4 separate regions of the Homo sapiens genome follow, and regions 2, 3 and 4 are each linked to region 1. Evidence: fine-mapped expression QTL. A gene starts in region 1. Each other region holds a variant in brackets. All regions are shown on one strand. Distances are from middle to middle. Region 1 holds the start of SNX19 (sorting nexin 19). Region 2 overlaps SNX19 (sorting nexin 19). Region 3 overlaps SNX19 (sorting nexin 19). Region 4 overlaps LINC02551 (long intergenic non-protein coding RNA 2551).

Region 1 (4,987 bases):
GAGAGAAATTCAAGTGTGGAAGGCAAGTAAAATCCAATGGGTAGGATCTTGTCCAAGAATTTTCTTTCTCAACTTCTTCCCTGCTGATTTCTTTTTCAAAATACTGGTACATTTTGTACTTTGTTTTAGGAAGGTAGGTTATTTACCTATGTCTATCTCAGAAGATAGCAAGTTTTTGACTCTTGGAGGTGTGTAAGCAGACTTGGGAACAACTTGACAAGAGATAACATGAAGAGGGTTGGTTGGATTAGAGAGGCAATTCCCCAAGATGGCCTTAGGACAGGCTGACTCTATGTTATCTGGAGAGTTCTATTTGAAAATAAATAAAATACAGAATCCAGGGACCCCCTCCTTAGAAATTCTCATACAGAATCCAACAGAGTCTGTCAGAATCTGTATATCTGAAAGGCAGCTCAAGTGATTTTGAGGTGCAGCCAAGTTTGGGAACCACTGAAAATATAACCCTCAGCATTCTAGCAGCCCTGAGGTTCCAGGATTGCTTGTGTGAGTACAGGATAAACGCTACTCTGCCTTACATATTAGCTTCAGACCATTCACAGAGATAGATGCCTATTGAAAGAACCACTTCAAACTAACAGCATCTCTCCCCCAAGAACATTTGCTTCATGACTGCTTTCCAAACCCACTCCTAGCCCGGGTGAGCACCCACAGCTTTAATCCTGTTACCTTCACAGTATAGAGTGTGTATGGGTGGAATCCAGTGCCACTGTGCTCTCGGGCTGTAATGGTGCCAGTGATACGAAGGTTCTGGATGATAACTGGACCATCGGGACTGCTTAGGGGCTCAAAGCTGAAGGTGGCTGAGCTGAGAGGACCAGGTGGAGAGGAGGAAAGCAGAACTGGTGGCAGAGTAGGATCAAGGGAGCTCACATCATTGGTGAGATCCTTCTCTAAGCATGACGGCCGTGAGGGGCAGGTCTTTTCTGGCCCCTCCAGCAAAGCTGTAACAGAGGCGGTAACATCTCCTTGTTCTATCTCCTTGTCTGCTGTGTCAATATGGATCTCTGGGCAGGAATTCAGTGTGGAGACCGGCAGGCCTGTCTCTGTTTCTGTCCCTGGACCCTCCTCAGCCTCTGCTCCTTCAGATGCCTCACCATCTTTGGGTTCCAGAGCCTGGGAACTCTCTAGGGCACACAGGGCATCCTGAATCCTGTCAGAGAGAAAGCTGCCTGGAGTCATGAGCATGATGGTTTCTTTGCCCAGTTCAGACAGCGGAGACTCCAGCTCTGAGTCTTCACATAAGAACAGGGGACCTCGAACATTTGGCTGTAGGAAATGAGATGAGTTGTTTCCTACTTTTCTTTCTTCACACATCCCACCCAAATCTCCCTCTACAGCTTCGTGGCCTTCTTCAACCTCTGGAGAGGGGCCTGCAGAACCCTCTGGCTCACTGTAACTTAGGAATACTGGGGCTGCTACTGGAGAAGCTCTCCCTTCTGGAAGCTGCTCTACCTCAGCAATCAGTGGCAGAGATGTCGGCACTGAGGGCTGTTCGGGGGCACTGGCTGGGCAGGGTGCTGGATCTCTGGCCTTGGAAAAGATACCCACGAGTACAAGGTGGATCCAGTCAGGATCTGACAGCCTGCTGATCAGTGGTAAGATTACATTGCATGTGATGAGTTCGACCACTACATGGCGTCCGGTACGAGTCTCCAAGTGGGGCTTGGGCACCAGCCCTTGAAGCAACAAATTCACAACGCCACGCGTATAGGTGACTTCAGCACTGGGGCTGTGCACAGCAGGATGTGGGGCAGTCGCCCGGCAGTAAGCCTCCCAGAGGTGGGAAGGCTCAACTGGACCATTCTTCCCTGCAGTGGCCTCCTTTGCCTGAATGTAGCTCTGCAGGTGACAACCGCAGAGAGTCAGAACACTCTGGGCAACAGCATGACTGTCCATCACGCTCATCCTTCTCCGAAGCTCCTGGACCAACCCTTTCATGGCTGCCTCCATTTCTTCCTCAAAGGCTGGCTCCTGGCTCACGGAACGGTACCAAGATAACACAAAATCTCGAATAATCATCTGGATGGTGCGGTTGATCTCCCGTTCCAGCTGCCTTTCTGCCTCAGGGCATGGAGGACAGGTGGCCAACGGGATGAAGCGTTCCAGATGCAGTCGACCTGAAGCCACTCCAGCGAGGCTGGAGCCCAGCCATCCTCCCAGCACCACTAGCAATGCCGACAGAAGGCACAGCAGCCACACGTTGACCAGAAGGTGTATGACCAGGAGCCAGCCAAGCAAGACCCCCACAGCCATCAGCTTCCGGCTACTCAACAGGTTATTGAGGTGACAGCTCGATCCAGCTGGAGTTTCCTGGAACGGTGGCACTGTTTCTGTCTTCATGGCTGAACGGACAAGGTGGCTTCCCCAGATGACAGCCCTCAAGATTTTACTTCAGAGTTAGGGAAGGGGGGCATGAACTGTGTCTCAGATATGGGGCGATCTGGGTGCTGTTCAGGGAACCGGGGCTCCAGGCCCTCAAAGTCCTACAGGCACTGCAAAGCGACAGCTGCAGCTCCGCGTCTCCCCATGGCTACCACTAACAGAGCCCTCCAACTCGCCCCTTCCAGCTGAGGTGTGGCTTTGGAGGAAAACTCTGTGGCCTTCACACTGCCCCAGGCGGAAGGCCTCTTCGGGGCCTCGGGGCGGGCGCTGCAAGGCCCTGGGGCCCACGGACACTTACACACGCAGCGGGCAGCGGCCGGCGAAGACTGGGTCACACGCCGCCGGGAACCGCGCGCCCACACTCAGCCCCGACCTGAAGTGGACTCATCGCGGTCCTCTCCGGGAGCCTCGGCCCTCTGCCGCCGTAAACCTGGGCGACTGCGCTCCGCAGCCGGGCCTGTGTGAAGGCTGACCGCCGGCCGGCCGCCGGCGACAGCTTCCGGGTCGACGTCGACGGGAGCGAGGCATGCTGGGAGAGCGTCCGCGCGCGCCCCGAGGAGCGGCGCTGCCCGGCGCCCTCTGCTGGCGAGGAGCCGCCCTGACGGCCCTGCGCGAGGTAGTCTCTGAGCCTGAGCGTGAGCCTGAGCGCGCACGGGGCGCGTGCTCGCCAAGAGCTGGCGCAGATTTCCGAAGTGCCACGAAACAGCCGCCGCAGCAATCACCGCTAAGACCCAGACTTCCAGGCGCTTTAAAACGCGTCCTAGTTCTGGTTATTAAATGAAGCCTGTCCTTTACTGCTTAGGCACGCTGTCAATAATCCGGTTTATTTTAATTTCATGGAGGCGAAGTTTCATTGGCCTGATGTGTCTTAACATTTATCCGGTTTCCCCTAGAGCCGGTACCCCGCGTCCCCAGCACAAAGACCCTCATTTGTTGTCAGGAATTGCAGAATATAAGGCATGAAACGATACAGAGATAGATTTATGTTGTACATTTCATATACTGTATCACAAAATCAAATTTGTGATTGAGGGTTATTTGCTGGTGGCATTACACAAACAATCAAATATTTTGAGCATCTGCTGTCTTCAATGTGAGAGGCAGCGTGGACGAATAGAAGCAGACCTTGTCCTCCAGGACCTCCTGCTAACTGGGGATGCCAGCGCTTTGAACGCGATTGGCTATCTAGTAATGCCAGTCAGCGTGCGATATAGTAAAATACAAAATCTTATAGGAATTCAGGGGAAGGAGAGATCACTGTGGGTTGCAATGGTTAAGGAGAAGCTCACAGAAAAGGTGCCTTTCTGCTGAGTCTTCAAGGATGAGGGTTTCTATTTCCCTCTATCTCTTCTCGCCTTATCCTCCCCAAAAACATAGAAAAGGAAAGCAGAGATAGAGGTGTCCTTTCAGATAATCCTGTAATATATTTGCTTTGGAATATGCTCTATGTTGGATTGTTTTTGGTTTTAGCAAATTAGACTTCACTTGTCTACACAGGAACCTATAGGAAGACAAAATACCGGAAGCACTGACCAGGTGTCAAAAGTGTTAGTGTCAGTTTTGCGTGAAGCCAGCTTCCATGTCCACCTTGGGCCCTAGGAGCTGTGCCCGCAGGGTGGGTCTCCTTTCCATTTAGGCATAGGATTCGCATCGTTTGCACAGAGCTGCTCATGGTTGCCCTTCGTCCACCTTCTCTGTGCTGTGAGCAGTCTTTCATCATCATGGACTACTCCCTAGATGTTTAAAGGAATCTTCAAACAAATCCCAACCCAAAACTCTGCCAACAAGAAGTGCGTTGCAGCTTCCTGTCTCGTCCATTGCTGCTGTTGGGGCAGAGACTTCCTTTGAATACGAAAGAAGCCATCATTTAGATGTGACCCGTAGTTTACGATTCATCACTTCTAAAGCAAATGGTTTGATTTAGGATCAGTGTCCACTAAGCAGACTGGGCACTCCCGTGAGATGGCAGAATGTGAATCCACGGTTTCACGGTCCATACCTTTTCACTGCTGCCTGCCTTCCCGCAGAAAAGGAACCCGAGAAGTGGGCTCTGCCCCTCTACCTTCCCAGACCATTCTAATGTCCTCAGGAGCACTTAGAAAATGGCAACAATGCTCTGGAGAAAAGTCCCTGCCACCTAGTTGGGAGCTAAAACAGAAATGTGAATGATGAAGGGACTACCGACGGTGCTGAAGACTTCCTGTGGCAGTTCAAAGAGAAAGTTTACTTGGCAGCATAATCTGGAGTGTTCAGGGCAGTAAGGAAGTGACCTTGCAAGTGGGCGCTATGCCACCTGACCAGATGGTCTGGAGCATCAAGGTAGCCAAGAGTGCCTTCCTGATTCTGAAGCGGGTTTGATGGACATGCCCGTGCACTTGTCATTTGGACGGGTGTGAGCTCCTGCCTGGGGGTCTGGGCAGACCCTGGTCTCCAAACAGATTAATCACTGGGAGGAGGTGAGAGTCAGGACTGATGTGCCCTGGTGTGTGTATGTGGGGTGGGGAGACTTGGCCACACCACTCACCATCTGGAGACGTCCTTCCTTCTTTCCTTTTCCCTATTTCTCAAAACATTAAAGGCATAG
Region 2 (4,987 bases), 20 kb before region 1:
CCTGCTCCAGTACCAAATAGCTCTACTTCTCCAAAGGGCACTTGGAGAAGCCTGCAAGGACAGAGGTAAAGATCAAAAGTAAGCAATAACATATGGTTGCTTCTCCAAAACCAAGTTAATGGGGGAGAGCCAAACGGTCTCCATCCATGGCCGAAAGCAATAGGGAATGTCCTTGATTATGTAACAGGTTGATAAGATTCCTAACATCGGGGCTATTCAGCACTGACAATCTCCATCTTAGTGAATACATAATGTATAAGATTTTAGGATCACAGGAGACCCTGAATATAGGTCCAAGTAGTTTATACAGAATATTAACAAAATTCTTGCAATTCAGATGTCTAGCTGGTCTCATCACCACAGACTCTGTTCTGCTCACTCTGTTCTGAATGAATCAGCTCCAGCACTGAATTTTTAACGGGTGGGATCCACTCAAAGGGGCAACTTCTGGTCATCCACACCACTCAGAGAAGCAAGCATATGCTGAAGACGCATTAGAGCAGAAGGAAGAAGGGTGAAAGATCAAAGAAACAGGGCTTATCTAAAAGTCACTGGCACTAAGGAGTAGGCAGATAAGTGGCCTCTAAACCGTAGAGCAAGCCAGGGAATGGCTTCAATATACTGTATCAACATCACGGCAGGGGACCTATAACTGCAAAACAAACAGGTCTTCCTCAAAGGACAGTGAATGGTATTGTTTAACCTGCAGCGCCACCTGGTGCCCATAGAGAGAATTCCTGTGCCCACGCCATGCAGCAGCAGTTTGGTAGGCTTTTTGTCACCTATTTGAAACAATAAAAGCAACACACATTCAGAAAGAAGCTGGCTAAAAATATTCCAGGTTGCTTTTTATTTGAAAGTAGAATGCCCCTCCTCCTGTTTTAAAAATGTCTTAGTGTCTAGAATATTATTTAGCCTAAACCAGTCTAAATGACACCTATCTCACAAGATCTAGCTGTTATACCTTCCTCTATAAAGCCTCTCTAACATTTACCTCTAAATTATCTCTTATCCCCCCAAAGAACTTCATGCACTAGGCTATGATTTCTATTTCGACAGTAACAGACAAAGGAAGTTAAGTGGTTTGTTCTAAGTCACATAGCCTCAAAGCAAGATCTGATTTCAGATCTGACTTCAAAGTCCAAGTTCTTGCTTTCCATGTGGAAGGAAAGAGGTGGAGAAAGTACAACAGCAGGAGATGCTTCCAGAGAGGGCAGGCTCGGTGGGGCTTCATACTGGGAGGCCCAGGTTGTGGAGGGGCGCTGCACTCTTTGGAAAGGAGAGAGCCATTAGAATGGGAGATGGCCTGAAGGGCCCCCAAACCTCTTTGCTTAGGCCGTACCATGGCTCTGGGAATCAGAATTCCCCAATTAACTGAAGATCTGGGTATGCCCTGTGTGGAGGGAATGAAAGACTCAGTTTCCATTTTGCTTCTGGTCCCCCAGCACTGTTGAGGAAACCCTAAGATTCTTAATAGTGATAAGCAGAGGGACTGCCTCCAGTAGAATGACGTGTGATCTTCTGTGTTCATTTATTTGACACAAATTTACTAGGTGCCTTCTATGCATGGGGCTGGGTGTTGAAGATATAATGGTAAATAAGACGCAGTCCCTGCCCTCAGGATGCTGACATACATTCTAAAGCTGTCATCAAAATGTCAAAATCTTAGGTTCCTGTTTGCAGTCACAGATGGGCAAGAGATGCCAAGAACCTGACTTGGAAAAAAAGGCTCTGAGGTTTAAATACCTCATGATATTCTGTTTTTTGTTAACTTTTACAATGAGCAATTTTGTACCTCTATTTGAGTATATGAGACTTCAAGAGCACACACACACAGAAATGCAAATGCAATGCTCAGGCACACGGCTGTCAGCTGCCATCCACCTGCTACAATCTCAAAGATATATTCCAGTAGAGACTGTCACTATGTGACAGGAAAGCCATGATGTCTTCATCCTAAGATGGGTGTAGAATAAGTGATACCCAAGAAATATGACAGGCAGACCACTCATATGACAGGGGAAACTGCTAGGGCCCATCCTGGCCCAGTCTATAGAAGTCAAGAGCTTCCCTTTGGCATGGCCTAATGGAAGAGGCCTGGGACAAGCAGTACTCCTTCCCAGGGAGCCACAGTACAATCTGAGCAAAGCCATCAATGAGAAAAATTAATTTCAGCACCTCTAAAAACAGCCCAAGCCAATGACTGGAGAGCCAGAAAATAAGCGAGAATTCTGAAGACTGAGCTTGAGTTAATTTTGTATGTGGGGGTCTTGCAAAAGTATGCGTATTTCTAGAAAAGCTGTGCATAGGAAGAGATGGGGTATAAGACATAGCCAGGCATCAGAGCTGAACTGGAAGAAAAAGTTACACAGCAAAGGAAAAAACTGTAATCTATGCTTCCTGAGAAACTCTGAGTCTTAACGTTGATAATCTTTTCCTGAT[T/C]GTGAATAGCATATAAATAGAGATAGCTAAGAGACAATCTCTGGCTCAGAAGTGCTTTAAAAATAAAATCAGAATATGCAGACAAAAATAATTTATATGCTACCATCAGATGCGTGTGTCCCTGAGACCAGCTGGATGGAAAGCAAGAGAGGCTAGATGGGAATACGGCAAGGGAACTTTCAGGTGAACCCAGTTCTAGTGGCCACTGCTTTGTGGGAAAGCTTGCATGGAGGGGAAGCATGGCAGAGCAGTGGGAAACACATGAGCTCTGAGGCCAGGATGACTTAAGTGGAATCTTAAGGTGTGGTTGTTACGACTTTTATGATTTTGGGAACGTTATTTTATCTGAATGTAATTTTCTTCACTTATGAAATGTAGAACTACATGTCTATCTCATAGAATTGAACATTAATATAAACAGTACATAGCTGCTTTCCTGGTATTAATATTGTAATAAGCGTCAGTTCCTTTCCCATTGCAATTACTCGTGCACTTTTGGTGGCAGACCTGGAGGTTCTCTTAAGAAATAACCAATGTCACAAAGAACTGTTATCCACCTGCTAGTTAGACATGCCCACCAAGAAAGAGGCCCTTGAAGTAGAGTTCCACAGAAAGCGCCTTGATTCTGGAGCGTTCTAAGAGAACAGTGGAAGCAAGAGGGTTCATGGTCAACCTTTCCCAACTGTCCTTAGGGGAGGTGGACGTTGCGCCTTGCAGCACAGCACTCTCCAGTGCTCCCAGACTCTGCCGCAGCTCTCCTGACCTTTCCTAGGAGATGGTTTAGAGAGAGACATCTTCTCTAAGAAAGTGATTCCAAGGTCTGGTGTAAGGTCTAGAGCTTGCCATCAAGTTTCTCCTGGGTGCCCTGCTTGTTGGACTCCTTAAACCTGCACACCCTTTCTTTTCTTCTTCCTCTCTGGATACTTCCTAACTTTACACACTTCACGCTCCCCTCTGCCAGAACCTTTCCCCCTGGCTTTCTGCCAAGCCATTCCATTCCCACATGCCCCCAACACTCACACACACACACTCTGTCTCTATCTTACACACACACACACAGACACACACACACACACTCCCTTTTTAACTGAGAAATCCTGACGCAGATGCCAGGAATGTGTCTGCTGCCCTTTTGACACAGGTCTGATGCCATCGTTGGGGCCATGGGGAGGGCAGCGCCGCGGACGTGGCATTCACGCATTCTGCTGCTGGCATGGTTCCTATTTTTATCGTGGCATTGCTCTGGGTGTCCAGGCAGGGCGCCGGTCCAGCTTCTCATTCCTTCACTTTCCATCAGGACTCCACACCAATCCTACCCCTTACCTTGGCTGGATCTTCCTGCCCCAAACCCCCTACCATCAATGCAGCACAGTGTATCTCTCCTCTTTCCCTCCAACCCAGTCTAACTCTGAGTACTTGCCCAGTTTGCTAAATCTGATTCTGATGTTTGCAGAGATATTTTCAAGTTTCTTCTGTTTTCGGGCATGAGCAGAGTTTGCACAAGCCGGATTTGCTCCTTGGCTCAGAGTGCTACCCGCTCTCCCCTTCCCCTCCCTTTGTCTCTCATTCCAAATAAGGAGTGCTTCTTGTTACATAATTGGATGTTCCCAGCACAGAAGCTGACACATGAGGTTAGGCGCACATGCATGCAAGACTTCCCTTTGACTTAACAATGCCTTTTTTGGGCATCTAACTTCTCTTCAGCTCCCCTCCCACTTCTCTCCACATCATCAACAATCAACGGAGATTTATAAGCCTGGCTCAGATCAGAGCTCTTCCAACTTTGGCTTAGAAGGAGGGGTTATGAGGTCGAACTTACTCTGTTTTTTTTTTTTCCTTTGCAGGATAGAGAGTGTGCTTATAATTTGACAGAAGTCTATGGCGTCCAAGGCAGTAATGTACACAGGTCTTTTAAAGTTGCAAGATGGGTATACAAAGTTGGAAGCAGAGGAATAAACTTGCCTGCTTGGGGATAATAATACTGGAGGTTGGAACATGAGGACATTTTAAGGAGGAGATGCACTCAAATCTGGTGACTACAGCATCCCTGATGGTCAAACTGCAGTGAGTTCTAAATAACTAGAGAAGTGGCAGTACCACGTGTGGCACCAACACCAACTATCCTGCTCTTTTAAGCACGGAACTTAAAGGAAGAGAACCCAAGTACCCTGCAAAAGCATATGGCTCAGCTACCCGTGGTTTCAGGGAGGACAAACATGTAGCCTCCTAGGCAGCAGTCATGGGGATGGGAGGCAACGGGACCTCATATCATGCCTCTTGTGGGAGATGCAGGGGGTACAGTGGAGAGGTGCTGCAGCTCTGGAGATGTCAAGTTTCCAGCATATTGGCTTACCAAAGCAAATAAAGCTGAAGCATGCAGCAATGCATACACCACTTTTTAAAATTAAAACCTGCAACTGTCCCAGGGATAGTAACATGGGCTGTCTTTAGACTGCAGCACTGCCCTTAGGTTAGCTGCAAGTGTGTAGATACGGAGATGCAGTTTGGATTCTACAAACTGCCTGATAATCTCCAGTACTTGGAG
Region 3 (4,987 bases), 40 kb before region 1:
TACTATTGAAAGCCAATCACAATGCCATTCTCAGTGTCAGTGGATTGGCATGAGGTGGGTGGTTCTAGCCAATGAGTCATAAGAGGTTTTTTGTTTTTTTTTTTTTTATTTGGGGTCTCACTCTGTCACTTAAGGCTAGAATGCAGTGGTGTGATCGTAGCTCACTGCAGCCTCAAATTCCTGGGCTCAAGTGATCCTCCTGCCTCAGCCTCCCTAGTAGGTGGAACCACAGGCGAGAGCCACCATGCCCCGCTCATTTTTTATATTTTTTGTAGAGACAGGGTCTTGCTATGTTCCAGGCTGGTCTTAAACTCCTGGACTCAAACAATCCCCCAACCTTGGCCTCCCAAAGTGTTGAGATTATAGGTGTGAGCCGCTGTGCCCGGCCTAGAAGAGGATTCTTGAAGGACTTCTGGGAAATGGTTCCTTCATTCCTTAGAAGAAAACACAGAAGAGATGCTCCTGTTCTTTTATGAATGTTATCTCTGGGTGTGATGCCTGAAACTGCAGCAGCAGGAAGGCAGGCAGTCTGAGAGCACAGCTGACCTAATTAGAATGGCAAGGAAGAAAGATGGAAAGAATTCAGGCCCCTTAAGAGGTCTCAGAGTTGCTGAATCACCAAACTCCTGGGCTTACCTACTCACGTACTAATGTTATGAAATAAAATAAATTTTCCTCATAATTTAATTCTTGTCCAGAGCATCCTGATTCATATAGCCAGGGACCATAGTTACACATATTTTTACTTCCTCCAGGACCTAACAACTGGTGTTGTGTGCTATGAGCAAAGGAAGAGCAGTAGCTGGAAATGAATAACCTGGGTAGGACACAGGAAGACTCAAAAATGTTCTAGGCTATGCAAATCAAAACCATGAGATAGTAATATCACCTAATACCTTTTAAGATGCCATTATGAAAAAACAAAACATTACAAGTGTTGGAGAGGATGTGGAGAAACTGGAACCCTTGTACATTGTTGGTGGGAATGTAAAATGGTCTAGTCACTATGGAAAACAGTATGAAGGTCTTCAAAGAATTAAAAACAGAACAATATATGATCCAGCAATCCTACTTCTGGGTATTTATCTAAAATAATTAAAAGCAGGGCCTCGAAGAAACAGTCACACTCCCATGTTCACTGCAGCATTGTTTTCAACAATCAAGGCGCGGAGCCAACCTAAATGTCCCTCAATGAATGAACAAAGAAAATGTGGCATAGCCATACAATGGAATGTTTTCAGCCTTAAAAAGAAAATTCTGTCACATGCTGTAACGTGGATGAACCTGGAGGACATTATGCTAAGTGAAATAAGCCAGTCAAAGGACAAACACTGCATGATTCCACTTATATGAGGCGTTCAAAGTAGTCAAACTCACAGAAGCAGAAAGTAGAACAGTGATTGCCAGAGGCTGGTGGGAGGGGAAACGAGGAGTGGCTGTTCAATGGGTATAAACTTTTGGTTATGCAAGATGAAAAACTTGTAGCAGTCTGCTACAAAGCACTGTGCTGCTTCTAGTTAATAATGTACCGTCTCAAAATAAATAAATAATGTACTGTACACTTAAGAGGGTAGATCTCACATTATGTGTTTCTTTACAACAATAAGAAAATCACCTTGTAAACTGGAAATTTCCAAAATGGAAATTGGAGTAGCTTGTATTGATTTTAAAATTTATACATGCTCTCACTCATAGGTGGGAATTGAACAATGAGAACACTTGGACACAGGAAGGTGAACATCACACACTGGGGCCTGTTGTGAGGTCGGGGGAGGGGGAAGGGATAGCATCAGGAGATATACCTAATGTAAATGACGAGTTAACGGGTGCAGCACACCAACACGGCACATGTATACATATGCAACAAACCTGCATGTTGTGCACATGTTCCCTAGAACTTAATGTATAATAATAATAAAAATAAAATTTATACATGCTCCTAGGCTCAGATTTAGGAATTTATTTTCCATTTAGGTTTTATTAAGTCTAATCCAACAATGCAAAAATGAAACTGTGAGTTATATGTGATGAAAAAGTATAGCTTTCTTGAATTCAAATAAGCAATGGCAAAGATCACATTTAGAATTTGACAGAAAGAACACAGCATCCCTGCCTCGTCTTTTTTATAGATAGTAAGAAAAGGGAAAGTAGTCTTATTTCAAATATCAAAATTCTGACTTAAATGAATAAAATTTAGTCACGAGTAAATACAAAAAACAAGCAAACAATAAAACCTTCCTGGATCAGCACAGGCCCAATTCTTCCCTGCCTTTTATCACCCTGTCAGCTGGGAGTATCTTTTCTACCTGTGGCTCTCTACCAATTGTTACTCTCTTGTTGTCTGAACCTGCTAGCCAAACTTGGCAGGTCGTTTTCAAAGCCAGATGAGTTCTGATTGTTCCCTTGGCAATATCCATTATTTCCCTCCTGGGTAGAAGGAGGATCTGAGGACAGCTTATCTTTTTGGGGTACGTGGAGTAGAGGTGGGGACTCTTATATAATACGAAATAAAAATAAGTTCTTTGGGCTGGAAGTGTCAAAAGATTCCTTAGAATTTATAGCCACAGGGATTTCATGGTGTGTCTGATGTACTGATTTTGTGCCACATTTGAGCCAGAACTGGCAGCAGATTCAAAGCAACACAGGTGGCTAAGTACACATGAGGGGAAGGTAGGTATGGGGAGAGAAAAGTGGCATAAAACAAGGCTGTCCCCCTATGCTCATCGAGAATAGGATCTTAGCCCTCACTGAAGGAGCTTAATGATCAGCTCTAATACATTGGCTGGACTCCTGCAGGTACTCA[C/T]GGAAAGTAGAGATGCTGAGCTACCTTTTCTTGTCAAAGTCTAGGGCTGGAGATGCTTCAAGAACTTTGGAGCCATAAAGTCACTGTAATGGTCAACTTTTAAGGCTAGAAGAGGCCATGAGACATCTCATTCATCTCCTTGCCTTTGGGCAAGAATTGCACACCTAAGCCTCCCGAATACATCAGACACAATTTAGGGTTAAAAGCCTCCAGAGGGGCAAAAAAGTAAAAAGATTTTACAACTTTCTTCCACAAACCACTTTAATTGTGTGCTCATCACCGACTTCAGAATCTAAGAGAACTTTGACACTTGTTTTTGACACCCCATTGCCTTCTCATCAGTCTAACTCCAAGACCTTCCTCCGAGTGGTAGGCTCTGGTAATTCAGCGAAAGCAAGGCGCTAACAGGCGAGTGTGAAGCCAAAGGGCTCCCAGTGACATCCTTGACATCTTTTTGCCAGCTATTCACATGCATTTAATATACAGCACTTCCCTGTGACTGTCTGCAGCCTTTTCTACCAGCAATTCCTCCTGATTTATCCTTCTCCAGCAATTCCCAGTTGCCTTGCCTTTCTAATAGATGTTGCAGTCTGACAAAACACCTTTGCCTTCATGCTGGTGTTGTTAAAGGACTGATTATAACCGTAAGGAATGGGAAATAAGAAGCTATTCCTTGTAAGTTTGCTAATCTTATCTGTTCAGAATAATAAAAGTTCTCTGTCAAAGACTTAGGAAGGGAGATTTCATCCCCCAGCCTTGCTAGTCCTACTCTTTGTGCATTCTTAAGACAGGAGGCAAGTGCTTTCCATTCTCCTTGGAAAAACTGAGGCTGAATATGCAGCTTGTCATGCAGTTTTGCTGAAGACAGAGAGAGGGTCAAAAATTCAAAAACTCAATTGCTCTAGGGCAGGGGGTTGGGAGCAAAGCCAATAAATAAAATGGGTGGTATAAATGCCTTTCAGGAAAGGGTGTGAAGGGTGGGGTGGATTTACCAGAAGCTTTGGCAGTCAGCTTTGAAGTCTTCTGGAAAGGAAAGTGTAGCCTCCCAGGCAAGCAGCCTCATGACATCTTCCATAAGGCTGATGTGTTGGGAAACAGCAACACATGAGCAAGAAGTTCCTTGAAAAATTTTCTTCCCTCCTTCTTCTTCTGGAACTGTTGGGAAACTAGATTAGACCCAGGAGTCTGGTTTTTGAGAATGGCCCTGAATGAATTTTTAGTTTCCGGGTAGGAACAGAGAGCTGAGAAGGTTGTTTTCTCCTCCAAGGAAATCTGGCCACAGTTTTTTTCCTGTTCTATCTAGAGCTTGTGTGCTGGTGGATTAAGCACATGTGTGCACAGGGCCAGGATTCTGGCAAACAATCTCAGGGAGGATGGCAAAAGGAGAAGCAAAAGGGGTTCATTCCTCTACCTCACAGCTTCTTTTCCCAAAGGAAACAGGATCTACTCACCAGCAACAATCCCAACATCACAAAAGGAACAGGGAAATAAACGTGCATACAACTGGGACACACAGACCCCTGTCACCTGCTACAAATGGAGCAGAAGTGGGAGAGAAGTGAGCCACCGAGAACCTAGGCCTTCTTAGCTGTAGCCTACTTGAAGAGGGCACGGGCTTCCTGACTGGTCTCTGGTGGCCGAGTAACTCTACTTCCCTGACCTGGGAAGAAGGCGTGAATAACCAGCTAAGAGGAGACACCCATCCTCTTAGAGTTGCCTGGGGTATCTGAGGCAGAGGTGGTAGCAGCAGACTCCTCAACAGAGGCACTGAGATCCAAGAATTCCAGGATGATGTCCCCAAGGCAGTAAATCAAATGCCTGAAACGAATGGACAAAAAACTTAGGGTCTGGCTCAATCAGGAAACACAAGATCCTGTTTATGACATTTATTTTCTCCTCCCCCATCACCGACACCCTAAACTTCAATAGCTTGATGAAACCTCTGCCATGAAATTAATGTTTTTTGAACTAATAAAGCCTCTGACCCTAATAAAGGCAAGAACAGTTTTTATATAAGACTAGTTTTATATAAGACTAAGTTTTATAAAATTCCATTTCTCTTTACATAGTTACATTAGCACTGCTCTGAAGAACTGTGATAACAAATCCTTGAGATGTCAGGTTACTAGACACTTTCAGAGCTCCTGACTACTGCTGTTTCTCATAATTAATTACCTTAAATTT
Region 4 (4,987 bases), 69 kb before region 1:
CTGGTCTATGAATCAGTTCTTTCAATAAAGACTCCGCTGGGGCTGAGGGCTGCCAGATATTGGGTGTCCCTGAAGATGAAGCCAGTTGTGTCTATTGGCCTCTTCTCCAAATAGCCAAAGCAAGTGTGCTCAGTGCCCTGGAGTGGCCCAAGAGCAGGGGAATGAATAGTAAAAAATGTCTCAGGAAAACTCAGTTCTAGTTATGGTTTTTCCATTAATAGTTGAGGCTCCCAAGCTTCTCTGGGCTTCAATTTTATCATCTGTAAAAATAAAGGCATACGACTATTGGTGATTTCAAAATACCGATCTCATGTCAAGCTAGTGACTTAAAACCCCTCCAGGAGAGGTTGTTAAAGGTACACATTTCTTAGCATAAATCTGGAAACAACCGAAGTGCCCATGAGTAGGGGAGTGGTTAAATAAGTTATGGTATATCCAACCATAAATGCCCTTTGAAAAGTGTGAATTAGATCTGCATGTGCTGATACAGAAAGATCTCTAAGGAATATCATCAATTGAAAAGAGTAAAGTACAGAGCAACATATATGGCAAAATTCCTCTTGTGTAATTGAAAATGCATATATGTGTGTGTGTGTAACTGAAAATGCATATATATTTATATATAAATGCACATATATATATGGCACAAACTTGCTTTCAGTTATTGTTTATGTGGGGGTATACATGAAACTGTTAAGAGTGTTTATCTTAATAGTTTAACAGCTGTATGGGCAGGGTAATATTTAAGGTATTGCTAATAACAATAGTAATGTTAATAGTTAAGGGCTGATTCACCCCACCTATTTCTGATGTCTTCTTTTTTTGTACCCGTCAACATTTATCTACCAATGTGTTAGAACAAGAAGGGGACTTGGTACTGTGGGGAGAATACTGAATGGGCTGTAAGTGGATCCGAGTTTAAATCATATTCTTGTTGAATATTCTTGTGCAAGTAACTTAACTTCCCTGGATCTCAATGTCCTCGTCTTTTAAATGCGGTGATAGGACTAGCAATAAAACACGGTGGTTCTATTTTAATTTGCAGGTAGTGTTTATAAGTTATCTGGGGAGACACACAGGAACACACACACACACACATACATACACACACACACTCAAATACAGAACAAATGAGTAAAGAGCATTGCTAACTCTCAACAAATACTTTAAGTTCTTTCTTAACACTATGGGCTACAGAGGAGAAATAACCTTTATCCTTGAAGAATTTTATGATCTTGTATGGGAGACAAAACAAATTTGTGTGAACCAACTAGAGAATAATATAAAGCCACATATGACAACCTTGGATTAACCTCATTCTTATGGAGCTCCCTTTAAAATATTACTCACCTGAAACTCAAGAAAACCAGACTCGGCAATAAATGTAAAACCCAAGTCCCTCGGCCACATTTGCACTGAAATGTAAAATAAAGGGTTAGACAGGTACAATTTCCTTTGTAGTGATAAAATCCTCTGATTCTATTGCATAATCTCCAAAAGCAGGTCCAAACCGAATAATTTTTTTCCCCTGAAACTAGATTCCTCCCTGTTTAGTAGAGTCCCCATTTCCAATTTAGGACTTTGCCAACCCCATACAACTTCTTTGCACAAAATACCCCAAGATAAGGTCAAGGAGAAGGCCTTACATTATGTCAGCCCCATTATCTGAGCTTGAGAGCCTCCCTTGGCTCCGCCCTGTCTGGGCAATGCAGTGGGAGAGGGGACTGGGCTGGGGGTGGCCAGGTGGCTGTCTAGCCTGCCTGGTCACAAAGACCCCAGTGAGTGTGAGATGAGCACATGACAGGGGCTCCGGGCAGGTCAGACTTGACGCCTCACTTGACCCCACTGACAGCCAGAGTTTGATAAAGACATGATTGAGTTGAGGATTTCTTTCTGACAGTTTAATGGATGGCTATAATTAGGGGCCTGCTCTGAGGGTGTGGAAACACATAGACCCCATTGTAGGGAGGCTAAATGCTACAAAGGTCAAGGCCAAAATATGGTATGAAAGAAGCTCAACGTTTTCCAACACACAGGAGAAGTGAGTCAGTAGTGAAACGTGTTTACTAAGCATGATCAAGCATACCCATTTCTTTTCAGTTCCTGAGCCTGATGGTTGTCATCAGTGGTGGGTCTCTGAAGCAGAGTTTCAGTCCTTGTGGCTCCAGAGACTAGCACTCTAAAGGTGGAGTTGACAGGATAAACTTCCCACCTGATCTCAGAAAGCAACTGACTTT[C/G]TTTTCTTCTCCTGGAACCATCTCCCTGACTGAAAATAAGAATGACAACAATAACTGAGACATACACATTGAATTTTAATGTTAAATTTAAACAATATTTGTCAGTTTGTTTATGCTTCATTGTCAAAATAATGATTAATGAAAGTGGCTTTAAGCCCTAGATACTTTCTGGGATGTTTTAAAAGACTTCTTCTTGGAATAAAGGAGCCATGATGTGCCAGCCATAATAAGATCCAACTAACAACGAACAAAAAAAATACAGTGAGTAATGGCAATAATGTTCTCATTAAAGGAAAATACCTCACAACTTAGACAGAAACAGAGGGAATTAGTGAAACTCCATCCATTGAGGGCTCATAGGCTGCCCTTGGAAATACTCTTACCTGGTCACAGTACTAGTGAATTCATTTCCTGGTTAAGTTGGTAAGGTAGGCATCTTGAAAGACATTCATTAATCAAAGAATCAGATAATCCCAGGGCTGAAAAGGATTTTGGAGGCCCTAGAGTGCCAAAAGGCTGACCCACCTCTGCCGTATGGATTCTGATGAACAGAAGCTCTGACTCCTTTACACTGCCTATCCCAATCTGGGTAGCTATGAGTATTAACAAACTTGTCCCGATACAGTAGTCTCCCTTATCTGCAGTTTCACTTTCTACAGTTTTAGTTACCTGTGCTTAACCGCAGTCCAGAAATAGTAAATGGCAAATCTCAGAAATACACGTAAGTTTTAAATTGCATGCCCTTCTGAATGGCATGATAAAAATCTCATGCAGTCCTACTCCATCTCACCCAGGACGTGAATCATCCCGTTGTCTGGCATGTCCATGCTGTCTGCGCTACTCACCCATGAGTCACATAGGAGCCGTCTTGGTTATTAGATTGACTGTCATTTGTTTTGCAGTGCTTGTGTTCAAGTGACCCTTATTTTACTGAACAGTGGCTCCAAAGAACAAAAGTAGTGATGCTGGCCATTTGAACATGCCTAGGAGAAGCTGGGAAGTGCTTTCGTTAAGTGAAAAGGTGAGAGCTCTTGACTTAATAACGAAAGAATAAAAATTGCAATATTAAAGTTGCTGAGATCTACAGTGAGAATGAATTTTTTTACCTGTGAAATTGTGAAGAAGAAAAAAATTCATATAGTTTTGCTGTTGCACCCCAAACTTTATCATAGATATGTATGTATAGGAAAAAAACATAGTTGGGGTTGGTACTATCCTAGGTTTCAGGCATCCACTGGGTGTCTTGGAACATATTCCCTGTGAATAAGTGGGGACTACTGCATTGAGCTAAAATCTGTTTTTTTTTTTTGTTTGTTTGTTTTTTTAACCTCCCACTAATTGGTTCCATTCTACCAACTGGGGTCACATAGAACAAGGCTAAGTCCCTGTTACATATGTTACTAGGACTGGCTATGTAATTTGCAGGGCCCAGTGCAAAATGAGAATGTGGGGCCCATGTTAAAAATTACTAAGAATTTCAAGATGGTAACAGAGCATTAAGCCAAGGGTGGAACCCTTCTAACTGCAGAGCTCTGTGTGGCTTTACAGGTAAGCAACCCAGAAAGTTGGCGGCGTAGGGAACTTTCTGTTTTGTTTCTGAATGACTGGATTTGGTACAGTGTTAATAGAAGGAAACTATTTTTCCTCCACTTTGTGTTATAACTCTTTTTCAATTCCTTCTTCCTTCCTGCAGATCCCATGGAATATTCTGGTCTTTTGCATATATTAAAAGCCCAGTTCAATATTTTATTAAACTCCAAGCTGTCAATCACTACCTTTGCCCTGGCTGGGGCTGGGAAACTTGCAGAGACTTGCTTCTTTTCTTTGTTCTCCTGGCTGATCTACCTCCCACTCTTCATGTTGCTGTTGGCTCCTTCAGGGCTGGCCAGGGGTAGAAGGAGAAGGGCAGTGGATGGGAAAGGTCTTCCTTACTTGGTAGGCCCAGGTGTGATCCGGCGTTTAAGGGCTCTCTGAGCTGAGCACTCAAGTGCTCCTCTTTTCTTTCATGGGTACATCTCTGGGTTCTTCTAAGCTCCTCCTCTGGGGACTCTCAACTGCGGTTTTCTGGTGCAGGGATGCCTCCTTTGGCTAGAAGTTGATGACATTCGCCCAGCCCATGGCTGGTGGTTCACTGCAGTCTCCTTCTGCTGGGGTCATCCACCCTGCACTCCCTCCCTAATTCCAGTGGTCCTCTTGGATAGAGTTTTCAAACTGCCTCATGCTGGTCTCTTCCTCAGGATTCACATGTGGACCTTGAGAAACATGTGTTTTTGCGCTGCCGTTTGCATAGCTCCCTTCAGTCTGCCAGCACAGCTTCTACTCCCTGCCCACAGCCAGAAACTCCCTCCTTCAGATTTTCTTCCAAGTAAGTGTGACTCAGATACCAGTTCCAGAATCTGCCCCAATTCCAAGGAATATATGGCAAGCCTGTTAGAGGTTCTTTGAAACTCATCTCAGTTGGCCTGAGTAGTGGAGGATTAGGAGGGCATTTCAGCATACAACTTTCTTTACTTTTTTTTTTAGGCAGAATTTTGCTCTGTTGCCCAGGCTGGAGTGCAATGGTGCAATCATGGCTCACTGCAGCCTCAATCTTCTAGACTCAAGCAGTCTTCCCATCTCAGCCTTCCCATCTCAGGTCCTGAGTAGCTGGGACCAAAGGCATGTACCACCACACCTGGCTGATTTTTTTTTTTTTTTTTTTTTTTGGAGAGATGGGGTCTCGCTTTGTTGCCCAGGCTACAACTTTCTTC

The links.
Region 2: its variant is fine-mapped to the expression of SNX19 in whole blood (TOPMed, PIP above 0.99).
Region 3: its variant is fine-mapped to the expression of SNX19 in whole blood (INTERVAL, PIP above 0.99).
Region 4: its variant is fine-mapped to the expression of SNX19 in atrial appendage (GTEx, PIP 0.95).

The regions. Positions count from the first base shown.
Region 1 is chr11:130,913,579-130,918,565 of GRCh38, forward strand. SNX19 (sorting nexin 19) reads right to left here and starts at 2,901. Exons shown (of 11, transcript NM_014758.3): 1 at 688-2,901. The coding sequence starts at 2,361. RefSeq lists an enhancer at 2,644-2,693 and a silencer at 2,814-3,093.
Region 2 is chr11:130,893,888-130,898,874 of GRCh38, forward strand. All of the region lies in intron 8 of SNX19 (sorting nexin 19), which reads right to left. Among named protein-coding and RNA genes, the nearest start is that of SNX19, 20 kb to the right of the region's middle. The variant T/C (reference allele first, on the strand shown) is at 2,443.
Region 3 is chr11:130,873,934-130,878,920 of GRCh38, forward strand. SNX19 (sorting nexin 19) reads right to left here. Exons shown (of 11, transcript NM_014758.3): 11 at 1-4,621. The coding sequence ends at 4,489. Among named protein-coding and RNA genes, the nearest start is that of LINC02551, 14 kb to the left of the region's middle. The variant C/T (reference allele first, on the strand shown) is at 2,804.
Region 4 is chr11:130,844,777-130,849,763 of GRCh38, forward strand. LINC02551 (long intergenic non-protein coding RNA 2551) reads right to left here. Exons shown (of 6, transcript NR_125383.1): 4 at 2,087-2,266; 5 at 1,351-1,415; 6 at 1-260. Among named protein-coding and RNA genes, the nearest start is that of LINC02551, 15 kb to the right of the region's middle. The variant C/G (reference allele first, on the strand shown) is at 2,238.